Linked DNA regions of Homo sapiens: region 2 is linked to region 1. The links come from fine-mapping of genetic effects on gene expression. Tissue or cell type: whole blood. Region 1 holds a variant in brackets; the other region holds the start of a gene. All regions are shown on one strand. Distances are between the middles of the regions.

Region 1 (8,103 bases):
CCAGGGGGCAACTCTGAAGGAGGATCCCCCTCCCTTCACCAAGCTGAGGATAGCAGACTGAATCCCCAGCCTTCAGAAGGAAACAGCCAGGGAACCTCTCTAAAGGAGCTGCCTTGAGCTCCAGGAGAAGGGAGAAATCATAAAATTGCTTCTGGTCACCTGCCCCATCCCCACCCATCTTGGTACCACCATCACTACTGCTGGTGGAGCCTGCAGACTGGATTTTTTTCCACTTTCTCTTAATTTTCTCACCTCCTCCAAAGAGCCTTTTCTATTTAAACTTAATAAATAGGAAGAAAAGAAACCCTTATTTTTTCAGAAACCTCTGATTCCTGGGGTGAGGAGGAGGAGGGGATAGCCAAAACAACTTTGAAAAACAAGAACAAGTTGTAGGACTTCACTGGATGGTTTCAAGACTGAAAATGAAGCTACCATAATTAAGATGGTGCAGTGGTGGCATAAGAATAGACACACAGATTGAACAAAAAGAGAAGCCAGAAATAGATCCATACATATATCATAAATTGACCCTTGGTAAAAGTACCAAGGCATTCAAAAAGGAATGATAAACTTTTTAACAGATAGTGCTGAAACAACTGGATATCCAGATGCAAAAAAATAGACTTCAATCCATGCCTTATGCCATACATAAAAATTTAAAAAATAGATCATAGACTTAAAATAACAGATAAAACCATAACACATCTCAAAGAAAATATAGAAGATAATATGTGGCTTTAGGATATGCAAAGATTTCATAGATAGGACCAGAAAGCACAAGCCACGAAACAAAAAAATTGCTAAGTTAGCCTTCATTGAAATGAAAAAGGTACATCAATTTTTCTCTTTGAAGAACTGCTACAACTCAATAATAAAAAGACAAACAACCTGATAGGAAAATGTACAAGAGATTTGAACAGACACTTCTCCAAAGGAAATATACTAAGGACAAACAAGCACACGACAAGATCTTCAACATCACTAGTCATTAGGGAATTGCCAATTAAAACCACAAGCAGATACTATTACACACCCACTAGAATGAATAAAATCTGTGTCTGACAAAACCGAGTGTTGACAAGGGTGCGGAGCACCTGGAACTCTCATACACCTCTGAAAGGAATGCAAAATAGTGCCACACTTTGGAAAACAGTCTTGCAGTTTCTTCTAAAGTTAAACATACATTTATCATATACCCTTCCAATTGCATTCCTAGGTATTTACCCAAGATAAACAAAAAGTTATACTGATACGAAACTATTCATGTATGTAAAAAACCACCCAGAAACAATGTAAATGTCCACTAACTGGCAAATGGATAAATTGTGGTATGTCCATTCAATGTAATACTATTCAGCAATAAAAAGGAACATGCTTACTGATACATCAGCCAACATGGATGAATTTCATAAACGTTGTATTAAATAAAGGAAGGTGTCCACAAAAGACTCCATATTGTATGATTCCACTTATATAATATTCTAGAAAAGACACAACTATATTGACAGAGGTAAGTTTCAGCAATGCAGGAAGGAAGGGATGAACTGTAAGAGGGAACAAAGGGTCACTTGGCTGATGAAAATGTTTGTATCTTGACTGAGATAGTTGTTACACAAGTGTAATGTTTCAAAACTCATCAAGTTATACATGTAAAACGGCTGAATTTTATTGTATCTAATTTTAGCTTAATCCAACTGATTTTTAAAAAGAAAAAAGACCAAAATCTTTTCCTCTTCCTTCTCATTTCTTGCTATTTTATCAAGAGGCTTTAGAATAATTTCCTTTCTAATTTCCCTCCACCCATTGCCCCCAGATCACCTAATGATTAACCCCCTTCCAAGCAGTAGAAAAAGACATTATATTTTTCTTTCCTTTCAACTGCTAGATTGTATTTTCAGAGACTAGATGGTTCATCACTGAGCCAAAGGAGTCCAGGGGGCCAGAAACTGGGACAATGAGAAAATTGGGGGTGGGGATGGCTGAATGGGGGAAATTTGGGGCCTGGGCCTAAGGACTGAGAGTCCCTAGAAGGTTTGATAGAAACAGCTCTGGGCTGGAGATGCAGACCCAGCCCCTACTCTATGCTCACCTTTGGGAGGGTCAGGTCATGGTAAACAAGGCTCCTACACCTGCCTTATTTATTTTACTGAACTGTGGGGGATTCATATTCAAGCAAGACTTGAATATGAAACTACCTTGAGAGAAACATAATAAACCCTGCACAAATGCAAAACCTTATAATGAATATTACTGATATTATTAGTCTCTGCTACTGAGAAACTCAGCAACCACAATTCTCTTTCAAACAGAGCCCTACCAGGATGCCATCTTGACTTCCTTCTTTCTGGTCCCTATTTTCTTCTGCAGGCCTGGGGGCTGTGGAGGGAGAGGTAGATTTCCTTTGCTCACTGGTGCAATCTACCACTGTACAGTCTTCCACAGAGAGCTTTGGGAAGATCTTAATAAGGCAAGCAGTTACAGCTGTTCCAGAAGCCGGGGCAAAAGGCTGTAGAAAACATTGGCCTGTTGGTATCCAGACCCAGGTTGGCCAACCAGGTTCAGTGTTCTGCCCCAAGCCTGCCAGAGGATGGAATCTCCACAGGGACCCCCTGCTCTCCAGGACTTGCTTCTCTTTGATTCTCTGCTCACTTTTCTTTGGGGGAGCTTTGACGTTCTTCTAGTCCATGCCTCTGCCATCAAGGAAAAGAAGGATAACAGAGTCCTAGGAAAACAGTGACCTGCCCCTTTATTATTCAGTGAGGTTTTTCCTAAAAACACACTGTACGTTTTTCAGATGTTCATAAAAGAGTATGAGTTTGGTCTTGCAGTAACTCAGTGTTTTTTCTGTTGTACTCCGAAGAGGCCCAGTGCCCCACCAGCTGCTGCAGGGACCTTATTAAGGTTAAGAGGAGAATGGAGAAGGCAGAGCACAGAACCTTCCATTCAACTAATGAAGCTCTGATTTGGTTAGTTTTATGTCTTAGGAATATCTGTTAGGTTTAATTTTGAAAAAAATAAGTTTCCTTTTTTAAGAAACAGCTGAGAAAACATGCTTCTAACCCGAAGCCCTCCTGCTGCTTCGGGAAGCCAGCTCTGCCGTGTCCAGTCATGCTGGCCTTAGAGAGGTGCTGCGTGCCCCTCCCTGCAAGGGCCCGCCATAGTCCTCCTTTCGGTGAAGCCTGCGGGAATCCTTCCTGAGGAATCCTACCTAACCGCACGTATACAACAGAACTTTTTTAAAGGACTGTATAAGGATGAAATGAGTTAAAACACTTTGAAAGCCCTTACAACAGAACACGGCTAATACATGGTAGCTGTTATGAATGTGTCCTACTTCTGATACCTTTGATCTCAAGGAAGAGCTGTTTGCCTTCCCTCCAAGCCCTATCGCTCTTTACCCCCTTTCCTCC[C/T]CCACTGGTCTTCAGTGTCATTATTTTCATAGGCCCTTTTTCTTCAGCATATAAACATGCTCAAATCTCTCATCCTAAAACCATGATTATTCCCTACAACTCTGCTCCCCTGGTTACAACTCTTTCCTTCTGCAGTCAGTCTTCCAAAAAGAGTTGTCTGCTTGTGTGAGCTTCCTTTCACCTTGATCTCTTGCCAACTTGCTGTCATCTGGGTTCTTCCCCCAGAGGCCTAGCAGAATTTAATCTAGGGAGGTCCCTAGTGATCTCTTAGTTGCCAAATCTAAGAACTTCTCAGCGTCTGACTTCACTTTTCTGTAGCATACGTTGGCCCAAATCTCCCTATTTGAAACACTCCCCTCCCATGACTTTCAGAGAAGTGTTCTGCCCTGGTTTTCCTAGTACTTTTTTTGCATGGTGATGAGAGGAAATCAGCCTTCATGCTGGGAGGAAGCCCAAATGACTCCATGGAGAGGCGTGCATGGAAAGGAACAAACAGCCATCCCCAGCTTGACAGCCGCTTGATGACCATCCTGATAATGAACCTCCATCCTCCAAGCCCCTCTAGCAGATATGATGCAGAACAGAAAAAAGCTGTCCCCAATAAGCTCTGCCAAAACTACAGATTTCTGAGCAAAACAGAGATCTGTTTTGTTATTTTGAGTTTTGAGGTAGCTCTCACAGCATGTTGTTGGTTATTTGCCTCTGGTCCTAGGAGTGCACCTGCATATAGCTGAGAGGGAGCCACAGAACACTTTGGGGAAGGAATTTCATGGAGGCCCTTTCTAGAACCACAGGAGAGAGCACAATTTCACGGAGAGCTGTAGGCCTTCCCAGATCTAAGGATCTGGGAAGACCTGCATAGCATCCTTGCCCTTCCAAAAGATGGGTGTGGAATCACAGGCAGATTATCTGATCTTCTTCAGCCTCGGTCTCCTGAACTGTAAAAGGGAGGTCATACAAGAAATGACCTCATCAGGTTGTTGTGAAGGTCAAACAAGATACCTGTGTTGTGCTTAGTACAATACCTAGCACAGAGCAGGCACACACACACAAAAATGCTTGTACTAGGCCGTGCGCTGATATGGGGTAGGCAGGAGCTGTCTGGAGTTCAAAGTCCGTCTTTGCTATTTTCCTGTTAATATCTTTGCCTGACTGAGCCTCAGTTTCCTTACTCATAAAATAGGATATGGACAGCATCTATCTCGAAGGCTTATTGTGATGAGCAAATGAGCTAACAGATCTAAAATGCTTAGATCTGAGCCTGGTCCAATGAGTAAGCCCTCACTGTCCCAGACCCGATTACCGCACACTCCAAAGCCTCACAGTATTATGGGGACAGCAAAGCCTGTACCCATACCACCATGTTACAATTAGGAAATAGGCTAAAGGTGATGGCCATCTCAGCCAGTGATCCCAGGCTTCTCAGAAATCTAGACATCCAGAATCTGCCCAGCCTTCAGAGTCCAGTGCCAAAGACATTCCTCCCACAAAGCCTTCCCTTGTTTGTTTTGTGCTCACCCCCAACCCTGCTGGCCTCTGCCCCACCTAGGCCGGAAGCGCCCACCTCTGAACTCCTTCAGCAGCTTCCCTGAGACATTAGTGGAATGCAACATCTATTTTTTCCACTCTGTATCACTGATGTTTATATACATGTCATATCTCCCTATACTAGAATGAGTTTTCCAGAGCCATGCCTGTGACCAATTCATCTCTACATCCAGTACAGAACATAGCCTGGCACATGGCTTAGAGCAGAAATGGTTTGTTGACTGAATGTGTGAATAAATCCCGATTCCTAAGGGTGCTGGAGAGAAATGGGGGATTAAGTGTGCACATATATGAAACATGCACATGCCTGGAAACAAAGGCACAACACATGCTAGAGACACAGACCTACTCATCAGTATCAACACACGCTCAAGGCAGTACAACATCTCTATAACTAATCCTCATTTTACAGATGAGGAGGCTCAGAGAGTCTAAGATATTTGCTCAGTATCACAGCCTTGGCATCTACCTGGCAGTCTTGGGGGAGCTTAACTCAGAACAGGAAACCCAGGCTGTAACTTGAGCATGCCAGGAGGCCCTAGCTTCCTTTTCGGCCATGCTCACCCCGCCACTCAGCCCAGCCCCAGAACAGTGAGAGCTTGCTGTCAGTCCTCGAGCTCCATGCCACTGTCTCTCTTCCTGCCCAGCAGGGTGGCACTGTCAGAAATGCCAGAGCCATTTAGTTGCCCAGCTTGAGGCCTAGTTCTTTGAACTCCAGCAGACTTTGCAGGGAGCCAAGAGGGCTCCCAGTGCCAGGCGTGGCAGCACAGCATGAATTGCAGAGCTGGGCCCGTGGCTGCATCCTGCCAGCTTCCCTCACAAGAGATCTCTGTATTACCTGGCAGATGGGTGCCTGGCAGCTAGGCAAAGCCAGCTTGAAAGGACGGATCAAAGCCATTGGGCCTCTGCCAGGCTCTGAGGCTGCTCCTCACCAAGTCCTGCCTCACAGCGCCAGGGCAGCATGCCTCCACAGCGTTCCTAACCCACCTTTCGTCAGCTGTGGGCACGCAGTGTTTCTCCAGGAATGGCGAAGGCAAGTCCTGACCAATAGCAACACTGCATTTATGCATGTTTCTGATTTAAAAAACCTTTCTGAACATCCTAAGAGTAATCCCATGGAAAAATATGATACTAATGATAATTAATGTCATTATTATTATTAATGCCATTTGAGGCTAACGGAGGTTTGACGACCTCCCGAGGACCCACAGCTCTGACTTTTTTTGCTGCACGCTGCTTCTGGCATCCATTCTCACTGTACCCCCTGACCCCAGGCATCTGCAGAGGAGGTGGCCTCTGGGCTGTGAGTGGAAGAGCCTTGATCTTGCCCTTCATAGCACAGTCAGACTCTTGAAGTTTGACAGAAACATCAAAACCTACCCAGCCAATCCCCAATTCCAGAGCTTCAACTGACCTTCTAGCATAGACTGCTCAGGTACCTCAATCACATGCCCACAAAAACAGCTGTTTGCTTCTGGTGAATCTGCTAAACCCAAAGGCTCAACATACTCATACACACCTGCCTGGGTGCACAAAGATGTGTACACACAAACATACACCCGTACCTCTTGGTGGACACACATATACATGCAGGCTTCCCTTCATGCACTCATTCAGAGCTCTTACAACAATGCACATAGGTCCTAAACGCCCCAAACCTATGCACACACCATCCTGCACATGTGTGCACACTCCTGGATTTGTAAATGCATACATACACACATACATATTCTCACATACAACCCTGCCCGTGCACACATGTGCAGGCATACACGCACACATGCAGAGCTGAGAACAAGGATGTTTTGTCCACTATGTGAACCCTCCTGACCATATGGGCCACGCAGGGATGTGATGTCCCATGGGGACCTGTAAACCATTCATCTTGTGGCTGCATGTGGGTGGTACTCTGCCAGTCATCAAGCCCAGTCCTGCCAGGCTGGGCACTGAGATGAGTGGGCCACGGGCCAAATTCAGAGCTGCAGCAACGTGAACAACTGTCATATGGGCACGATGCCACCAGCCTTTCTGTTCCTGAACAATGGTCTCTGTCCCAGATTAGGCTTTGCCTGGGGGAAGCACTTCCCACACCACAGGGGACTCCTCTTACAGTGAGGACAGCTATGCCAGGGTGTAAGAGGCTCACACACGAATCCTGAAGATGTCACTTTAGCTGTGTGACCCTGGGTGGATCACCTTAACCTCTTTGAGCCTCAGTTTGCCTCTGTGAAGTAGGGACTGTAATATCTTCCCGTCAGTACCATGTGGATAAATGAGATAACAAATGCACAGCAATGTCGAGCACACAGCAGAAATCAAGTAAGTGGAGGTTGAAAGGAAGGTTGGATAAATGAGTGGACACCAAACAAGGGTGCACGGCGCTCCGGGGCTCCCTGCTGAACTGCTCTCCCTTCTCTGCCTTTGAACCCCTAAGCTCTGTTTTCTAGTGTGGATCACATCATTCCACTTCTCAACCCACCTCCTCCCCCGCCCGCCTTCCCATCAACCTCTCTCCCCACAAACTCCCTCAGAAGGCCCACTGTGATGCCATCTCCTCTCCCTGTCTCTTTCCTCCCTCTCTTGCTCCCCTCTGGCCCCCCTTCCCTTCTTCTGTTCTTTGAACACATGCCTTTCCTTCAGCCCCAGGGCCTTTACACGGAACGCTTTCCCCTGAGGTCTTCACGTGCTCTGTTTTATTTCATCTCTCTGCTCAGATGCCACCCCCTAAGTGAGGACTTCTCTTCAGAGCTATCCTCCCCCTAGCCACCCCCGTACTTTTCTTCTAGTCCTTGGGAATTTCTGTTATACGTGTGTGAATTTTCTTGTTAAATATCTGCCTTCTCCTCTGGAATGGGAGCTCCATGACGGCAGGGGCTTTGTTCGACTTGTTCACCGCGAATCCCTGTGCCCCTGACATGCCGTAGGTGCTCAACAAATACTTGTGAAATGAATGTATACATATGATTCTGGCCCTTGAGGAACCTAAACAGAATTTCCCATCCCTAAATGACAATGCCACGCTCAGCTGCCCTCCTCTCCTTTCTCCTGTACAGCCCAGCTCATCACATTTTAATTTTTTCCCTAGCCTCAGCCAGCCTAATTACCCACAGCACCGGTGTGAACCCTGGTGTATGCGACGATAAGT
Region 2 (8,103 bases), 24 kb before region 1:
GGCATCTACTTGATGCTTGGTAACTGTGGCTATTCTCCCCTAATCTGGGCCCTTTATGCATCCCCAGCTTCCGGTTCATGAGCTAATTGCTCCCTGGAGAGCAGGGACCTTGTCTCATTCTTTCTAGCTCCCTCGCGGAGCCCTGTTATGGTGACCCACACAAATCATGTGTGCATAAAGCCCATACCAGAGGCAGGCATGAGGCCATGCCTGGGTGTTTCATATTCTCTTGGCTCTAAAGCCCCTTCATTCCATCTTCCTTCTGTTCCAACCCAGGTCAGCCCTACTTCACCCCAGCAGAGCACATGTTTCTTGGGTCCTGAGCTATTTCCAGGGAAGAACAGCTCCTCACAGGCCCAAGTTTACCACATGCCAGAGGAAATCTGATGACCTACAGGTGCCTGTGGAGGTCAGGTGCATTCTTGCTGAAAACAGGAGTCTTGTGACCCAAGAAATGGAAATGGCAGAATTACCAGTAGGGTAGGACATTGCTCTGGACATTTAGCTAGTTACCAGGGAGCAAGATTCCCCACTTGTTTCCCTGCAGTTAACGTCCTTATCTTCAGTGGTCCTACTGGAAGTCCTACCTGATATCTAGCTCCAGGCTTTCATGCTGCACATATCAGATTGGCCACACTGTTTCCCGCATGCCTTGTGGCTTCCATGTGTTATCTCTGCAAGTGTTAAGAGGAAGGGACGTGCTAGGCTCCTGCTGTATGTGTGACAATGGAATATCTGCTCACTGTCTCTGCAGGACACACTTTGGAAGAAGCCTTAGAGATCCTGGCATGGGGAATACCCCATGGGGCAGGCCAGGGGACAGTGCCAGGCCATAAGCCTTTCCCTGTTGGGATAAACAATCTTCTCTCAGGAGAACAGGCAGTCAAACTGTTGGCTGATAAAATAAATGCTTCCGATCTTAATCCCATCCCAGTCTTCACTGTGGCAGCCTGTTGCTGAGTTAAATCATTTCCTCTCCTGCCCTGATGTCTAGAAAATCTCCTCTCTGAGCCTGTTGGCCCTACTTGATTGACATTCATCCGGGTCTTTAGCTTCTTTGATCTCTTCCCCAAATTTGTCCTTCAGTTCTCAGAGTCTCTCTCTTTCTCTCTTTTTGAATATTCGGCTCTATCCTGCCACCACTCCATGTCAGGAGCTGGGCCTGAACAGAAACATCTGAAAGACTGCCTCTTCTCCACGCCCAACACCTGCTATCCCATGGGACGGACTAGACCTTGCCAGAGCCCCTGGTATGGCAAGCATGTTGTTCAGGTCCCTGAGGTGTGTCTGAACAACATGCTTGGAACCTGAAGAACATGCTTGCCATAGCAGAGGCTCATCACATGAAGCATGTGGCCTGTACTTTCTAAACATTCCCTAGTCATATCTGAATTTCTAGACCTTAAATCTTGTTTGAGTTCTCCCTCTCTGCCCTCGAAAATCCAGCTTTAACATAGCTAGCACGTATGCAGTCCTTACTAGATGCTGGACACCTTTCCAGGCATTATCACATTTAATCCTGCCAAACACCCTAAGAAGTTAAGTGCTATGCTCCTTTTACAGATGAGTTAACTCAAGGTTGGAAAGCTTATGGAATTTAACCAAGGTCATAGAGTTTGTGAGTGGCCAAGCCAGGACCTGAACCTAGATTTGAATTATCTGGTTTATGCTTTCAAGTGCCACACATTACAGTGATTCCCTGAAGTTCTGAATTTATCTTCTAGTCCAGGGAACTCCTTTGCCACTTCCTCGCCTCTCTCTTTCTCTTTCCAAGCTAGAAAGGAATCCACAAAACCATGTGGTGCTCATTCCTCTGCACCTGGGGAGGGAAGGGACCTTCGCTATTTTTAAGTTCTTCAGTGATCAGTAAACATGAGTATCCTGTTCATCAGGACAGTTTCTCATTACAAATTCGTAAATTCATACTAATATGATATGTCAGTCTCTTATGAGTTTGTTTCTGATGAGTCAGTTCCCTCGATTCCTGAGGAATCTGAGGACTCATGGCAGCCTAATTGATTCTCCAAGACTTCAAAGCTTCAGTATAAACATGGAACATGGTGACCACACCAAGATCCCACCAGGCCGTGTGGCAGTGGCACCTGGGGAGTGAGCAAGGTGACACATTCAAACAGGAACAAGGAAGAAGCAGGTTTAAAGCCTCTGCTCCACTGTTGCCCTCTCTTTGCATAGGCTCTGGTCTTAACCTCTGCCTGCTTCTACCTTTGTGACCTTCAACAAGTTGCTTATCTTCTCCGAGTATTTCCTCAGCTGTAAAATGGACACAGTGATTCTTGCCCTTCTGACTGTTTACAAGGTCAGAGGCTGAGGATCCTTGTGGTGAGAATCAAGTAAGCAGAAGGACAGAAGGAGTTCTGTAACTCGGAAAATGCAGTATCGATGCTGGTTGTTAAAACCCTCATCATTCCTATCATTTCTGTCCTTGGAGTGCAAGAAACTGCATCCAAGCCCAGGATAAACGCTAAGAGCTGCCAGCATGGAGGGAAGGAAGTGGGGGCCAGGCTGTTCCCCGTGGCATTCCGGGGGCACTTCCCAGTGTCCAGGCCGCACTGCCCAAGACGAATGGAGAAGAGGGACAATGAGAGGCGATCCTCTGCAGGACTATGAGTGGGGTGAAATTCTTCTCCTTTTTGAAACTGCCTTGTTTCAAAATAATAATAATAAATATTAATAATAAAATATTATGATAATATTTTTACAATAATAAGTGAAATGTAGGAAAAAAAACAGTGCACAGGCCTACAGAGGGCTTCCCTTGCCATGCTCTTTTGCTCCAATACTGCATTTCACCAGAGGGTCAACATTCGCACCCCACCACCTGCCATTTGTTTTGCTTTGCAATTGCCCTGGGTCTCTCCATGAGCAGGTCCCATCCCTGGCCATGCAGAATGCCTTCTTACAGAATCCCTGGTAGAGGGCCTTGGGGATTAGACAGTGCAACCCCTCATGCTATGGTTGAGGAAGCTGGGGCCCAGAGAAGAGGGGGATGCCTTGTGCCTTGTCTAGGTCAGTGTGGTGGAAGCACCAGCTTCTTCTGGAAGCCCAGGTGCTGCCTGGGTCTGCCCTTCCCCTCGGCTCCCTTCCAAATCCCAAGCTTCTAGGTCACACGACACTTTCTCTTACTCCCCTGGCTCTTTGAAGGAAATAATGTATACAGTGGGCCATTTCCAGGATGAAGTGCCTGAATTGGCTTAGGTCAGCAAACTACAGAAGAAACAGGATACACTAGGCCCCTGCTTGGATAGCTGATGCCTGCTTCTCGGCCTCCCCCACTTCCCCACCATCCCCCTTCCCCCCACTTCCCCACTCCTTAGTTGCCCTCCCCGAACCAAAGAAGTTTAGTCTAAGATGAAAGTTTACTAGCCTACAAAATAGTTCATTTTGTTTGTTCTTATCAGCCTGCCCAGCTACTTCGGTCATAAATCAAATACTTTATGAGCCCCTGAGCTAGCTAGGATTGCAATGCATTGTGGGCTGCAACAAAATGGAGCAAAACAACCCTAAAAAACCACCTACAGCCCCTGCCCAGCAATGAACAGGCATCATCCGGGAAGATTGTAACCCATAATACTCAGCCTATGAGGAACCAGGGGAGAGACCTGTGCACTAGGGGATAAACTGCTTGTTGAAACTGTGCTGGGTGTGCCTGCTCAAGAGACACCCGATTTTGCAAGACCGTCATCACAAGTCTCACTTTCGCTGTTCTCTGGGTCTCTGAGTCCATTCTTTGGGTTTGGACGGGTGAGTCTGTTTCTCACAACCTGGTGGCCCATATGGGGATTTCCATGCCTGCATGGAGTGAGACTCCAGCTGACAGGGGAGATGTGTCCCACTCGATTTGTGTGGCCCACTCTGTCCAGGTGTCTCAGCTCCCCGAAGAAGCCATAGACAAACCTGAAACTGTTATTCAGGAGACAACTAAAGTGACACAGGGAGAAAAGCAGGCAACCAGGCAACCTCACGCATGAGCCAAGGTAGGAAAATTGATCTGTAAGTACTGCTTGGTAGTTGTGCATTTTCGGAGGTCTTGGGGTGTGTAAGAAACCTCCAGTAAGGGAGGCTGAGTACACAGGGAAAAGCTCAGACACAGAGACTAACCAAAAATGGGAAACAAGAATTCTAGGCCTAGAGAACAGAGGAAAGAGGGAACTAAAGAGAACCCTTCTGACATTCCCCCAAATAGTCCGCTGGGGAGAATGCTGCAGGTTTGAAGGGATAGTCCTCAAACCAGGGACAAGGAAAAGCAAAAGATGATAAAGTTTGTTGTTTTATCTGGCCCAAAAAGCCCATTCGTCAACCTTTGGTCTTTTGGCCTGAGTTTGGCTCAGATGAGGATTGGGTGTGCCAAGCTTTAATTTTCTGTGAATAATAAAACTCCATCCTCACGAGAGGAGACAGGTTATGCTCTTTGTTGGATTAGTGAATTAACCCCCATGTTCCCCTTTAAAAAGAAGAAAAAGAGCATAGTAAAAAGCCCTCACCCAATGAAAAGCCCTGGGATCCCCTAACACGCTTGCCCCCCCATACATCTCAGGAAGAACAGAACAGGGCGATCGGGGGGCAGCAAGAAGGTCGGAGGAAGAGGAATCGGGGGGTCACGAAGAAGCTAAACCCAATGCTTCCTTAAATCCTTATCCAAACTAGAGGAAAGAATTAGAACAATGTAAGAAGGACATTGAGAATTTCCCCGTTCCTTCTAAACAGCAGATGTCTAACAGGTACCCTCTTAGAGAAGTCTCTACGGGACAGAGAGGAGTTGGGTTTGTTGGGTTTGTGAGTGTGCCTCTAGCAAGTACTGAGGTTCAGAATTCTAAAAAGAAAATGAGGCCACTCTGGGAAGACCCCCTCGGTTTAGCAGAGCAGCTAGATCAATTTTTATGACCCCATTTTTATACTTGGGCTAAGATAATGTCAATCATAAATATTCTGTTTCCTGGGGAAGAGAGGGGAATGATTATAAGGGCAGCCATGACCATTTGGGAGAGACCCCATTCTCCCGGGTAAGGAGTCCTGCCAGCTGAGCAGAAATTCCCAAATGCAAATCCCAGAGGGGATAACAATAACCTCAGAGATCAGGCCCCAGTGCAGGACCCAAGGGAACTAATAATTAAAGGGATTAAAAAGTCCACTCTTAGAACACAAAATGTCTTGAAAGCATTCGAGATCCAACAATAAAAAGAGAAGACTCCCTCCGCATTTCTGCAGAGGCTCAGGGATCAAATAAGAAAATATTCAGGATTAGGTCCAGAGCACCCAGTAGGGCAAGGCCTTTTAGGACTTAGTTCTGTGACAAAAGCTGGCCTGATATTACTAAGAAACTGCAAAAGATTGATAGGTGGAATGAAAAACCGATTAAGGAATTACTGAGGGAAGCTCAGAAGGTTTTTGTAAGAAGAAAGAAAAGAGAAACTGGAAAAGGGAGAAAGAGAAAAAGTAAAAAAGAAAATTGGAAAGACAAAGGGGAGGAAATGGCAAACATAGAGGGCCAGAGAGAGAAAGAGTTAAGCTGCTGACCCTGAAGGCAAGGGAGAGGCGGCCACACAACTGTGTGTGGAAGCTGGCTGCTGAAAGCTGTTGATAAAAGTTGTTGCTGAATCTTTGTTGTTTCGACAGAGCTGTCCATCTTTGCAGATTGTCAGGGGCCAGGGCCCAGCACAGTTTAGCTTGTGCCCAGAGAGAGAAAGAGAAAGAAACTAAGTGTGAGGGAAAAAGGAAACAGGATGATAGAGATAGATAGAAAAAGAAAACGAGCGAGAGCAAGAGACTGGAAAAGACAGATCAAAGAGAGACACCAAAGTTAAGACTGGGGAGAAAAATAATGCAAAAGGAAGAAAGAGTACAAGAGGAAGTGAGAGGATGTGGAGAGGTTGGCAGGGCTGGGGGAAGGTTCTAGAGGCTCAAGCAACAAGGAGGTGCTGGGAAAGGGTGCAGTGCGGCCACTGAGGAGGGACAGGGTCCGGGAACTGGGGGATGCAAGTGAGAAGGGGATGTGGAGGAGAGTTTAGGATCAGGCTGCCTGAGGAATAGTGGGTTGCGTACGGCAAAGACTAGATGGCTGTTTGTCAGGAGGGTGTAGAAAGGGTTCAGGATGTGGAAGGGTGAGTGGATGAGATGAGCATTAAGGTTTGCTGCTGTTTCACTGAGAGGCTGTGAGTCCACCAGGGGCAGCCGTCAGTAAGGCTGCAGAGAGGCCGGGGGGCTACATAAGGAAGATCCGAACTAGGGTTATAAACTCAAAGGACAACACGGCCAGCAAATGGTGAGAAGGAGGGCTGCAGGGCTGGATGGGGACTGTGGCTAACTGAAGAGGGCACACCTCTGCAGCTGCTCGACTGTTCTCACAGTGCCAGCCCTGTGTTGCCAGACTGTCTGCTTTGTCAGAGGCCAGAATTCTGACTTTTTATGTGAAACAGGATTTTTAAATGCTGGTGATCAGTTAAAAAAACTTAATAACCCAATACAGGTGATAGAAAATGCCAGTTTGCAATCCCTGAAGTAGAGAGAGCGCGTGCTGGGGAGAAGTCCGCCAGGATGCTTTGAGGTGGGGTGTATAAAAGTTCTGTTTCCCAGAGCTGGGCTGGGCCAAGGGGCGACCCTTGCAGCTGACGAAAAGCCACCAAGTCCCCTCCCAGAGCGGGACAAACCTGGGACCCTTTGCAGTTGCTGGGTCACCAGCAGGGGTGGCGTGGAATACAAACAGTGCAGCTCTCGGCCTGCCAGGGAGACGGATGGTGCCTTCAAAGCAAAGAAGGAGCCAGGGATGCCTTTGCTGATGAGAGTGCCCATCAGGGAAGGCACCACAGGCTGGCAGCTCTTCAAACCAGCAGCTGTTGGCCCAGAGCCAGACCCGGCAGAGCCCGGCTAAAGACACCCTGAAAGGCCAGCTGGTCAGCCCCTTGCCTCCTCAAGTTCCTCCTGGGGTCAGTGGGCCCTGGAAAGGCGCCTAAATGAACTCCAGTCAGTTTCTTACGGAAATGAGAGGAGAATAAGCAGGTATCAGACCATAACTGTTTACATATGATAGAATATCAAACCAAAGTTAGACCAGACCTTAAAGAAATTCCACTACTCGATGGAATGAGGCTGTTTGTGAATAGGCCATCCTGAGTGATAGATGGTAAAAGACACAATGTCCAGGCTGTCATTGATGGAAACAAACAAACCTTATGAGAAAAAGGTAGATTACCCAATAACTGCTCAGCCCAAACCTGTGAATTACATGCTCTTAACCAAGCCCTGAAGCTCATATAAGGCCAAGAAGGCACTGTATATGCTATTTCCAGATATGCCTATGGAGTAGTACACACCTTTGGAAAGATCTGGACAAAGTGGAGCCTAATAAATAGCAGGTAGAAAGAATTGGTATATGGGAAACTGGTCAAACAAGTTTTAAAAAGCCTCCTGCTTCCAGCAGAGGTAGCCATAGTTCATGTAAACGGCCATCAGAAAGGAAACTCTATAGAAGCTAGGGTTAGGGTTAGGGTTAGGGTTAGGGTTAGGGAACAGGCTTGTGGATAAAGCTGCTAAGCAGCCTCCCTGGAGGTAGAAGTTAAACTATTTGGCCTAATCCCAGATATCCCTAAGGTGGTATTAAAACCCCAACTTTCTGAAGAGGAGGAGGAAGAGCTGGGCAAGATAGGGCCACTCAAACTGAGGATGGGAGGTGGGTGCTCCCTGATGGGACCGAAATGATAAGCAAACTCACAAGGAGAGAACTGATATCCATACTCTGTAAGGGAGGTCACTGGGGTCCCCAGGCCATGTGTGATGCAATACTCAAGAATTACGGGTGTATAGGGATCTACACCCTTGTTAAACAAGTGTGTGGGTGTTATGTGACCTGCCAGAGAATAAACAAAAAGGTAGTTAGAAAACAGACTACCGGCCGGGCGCGGTGGCTCACGCCTGTAATCCCAGCACTTTGGGAGGCCGAGGTGGGCGGATCACGAGGTCAGGAGATCGAGACCATCCTGGCTAACACAGTGAAACCCCGTCTCTACTAAAAATACAAAAAAATTAGCCGGGCACGGTGGCGGGCACCTGTAGTCCCAGCTACTCGGGAGGCTGAGGCAGGAGAATGGC

What was found. PIP is the estimated chance that this variant, and not a neighbour inherited with it, causes the effect.
Region 2: IQSEC3-AS2 starts here. The variant in region 1 is fine-mapped to the expression of IQSEC3-AS2 in whole blood (INTERVAL, PIP above 0.99).

The regions. Positions count from the first base shown.
Region 1 is chr12:83,047-91,149 of GRCh38, reverse strand. The region is part of intron 1 of IQSEC3 (IQ motif and Sec7 domain ArfGEF 3); the gene reads right to left. Among named protein-coding and RNA genes, the nearest start is that of IQSEC3, 20 kb to the right of the region's middle. The variant C/T (reference allele first, on the strand shown) is at 3,411.
Region 2 is chr12:107,511-115,613 of GRCh38, reverse strand. It overlaps IQSEC3-AS2 (IQSEC3 antisense RNA 2), which reads left to right and starts at 3,853. Exons shown (of 2, transcript NR_184284.1): 1 at 3,853-3,995. The region is part of intron 2 of IQSEC3 (IQ motif and Sec7 domain ArfGEF 3); the gene reads right to left.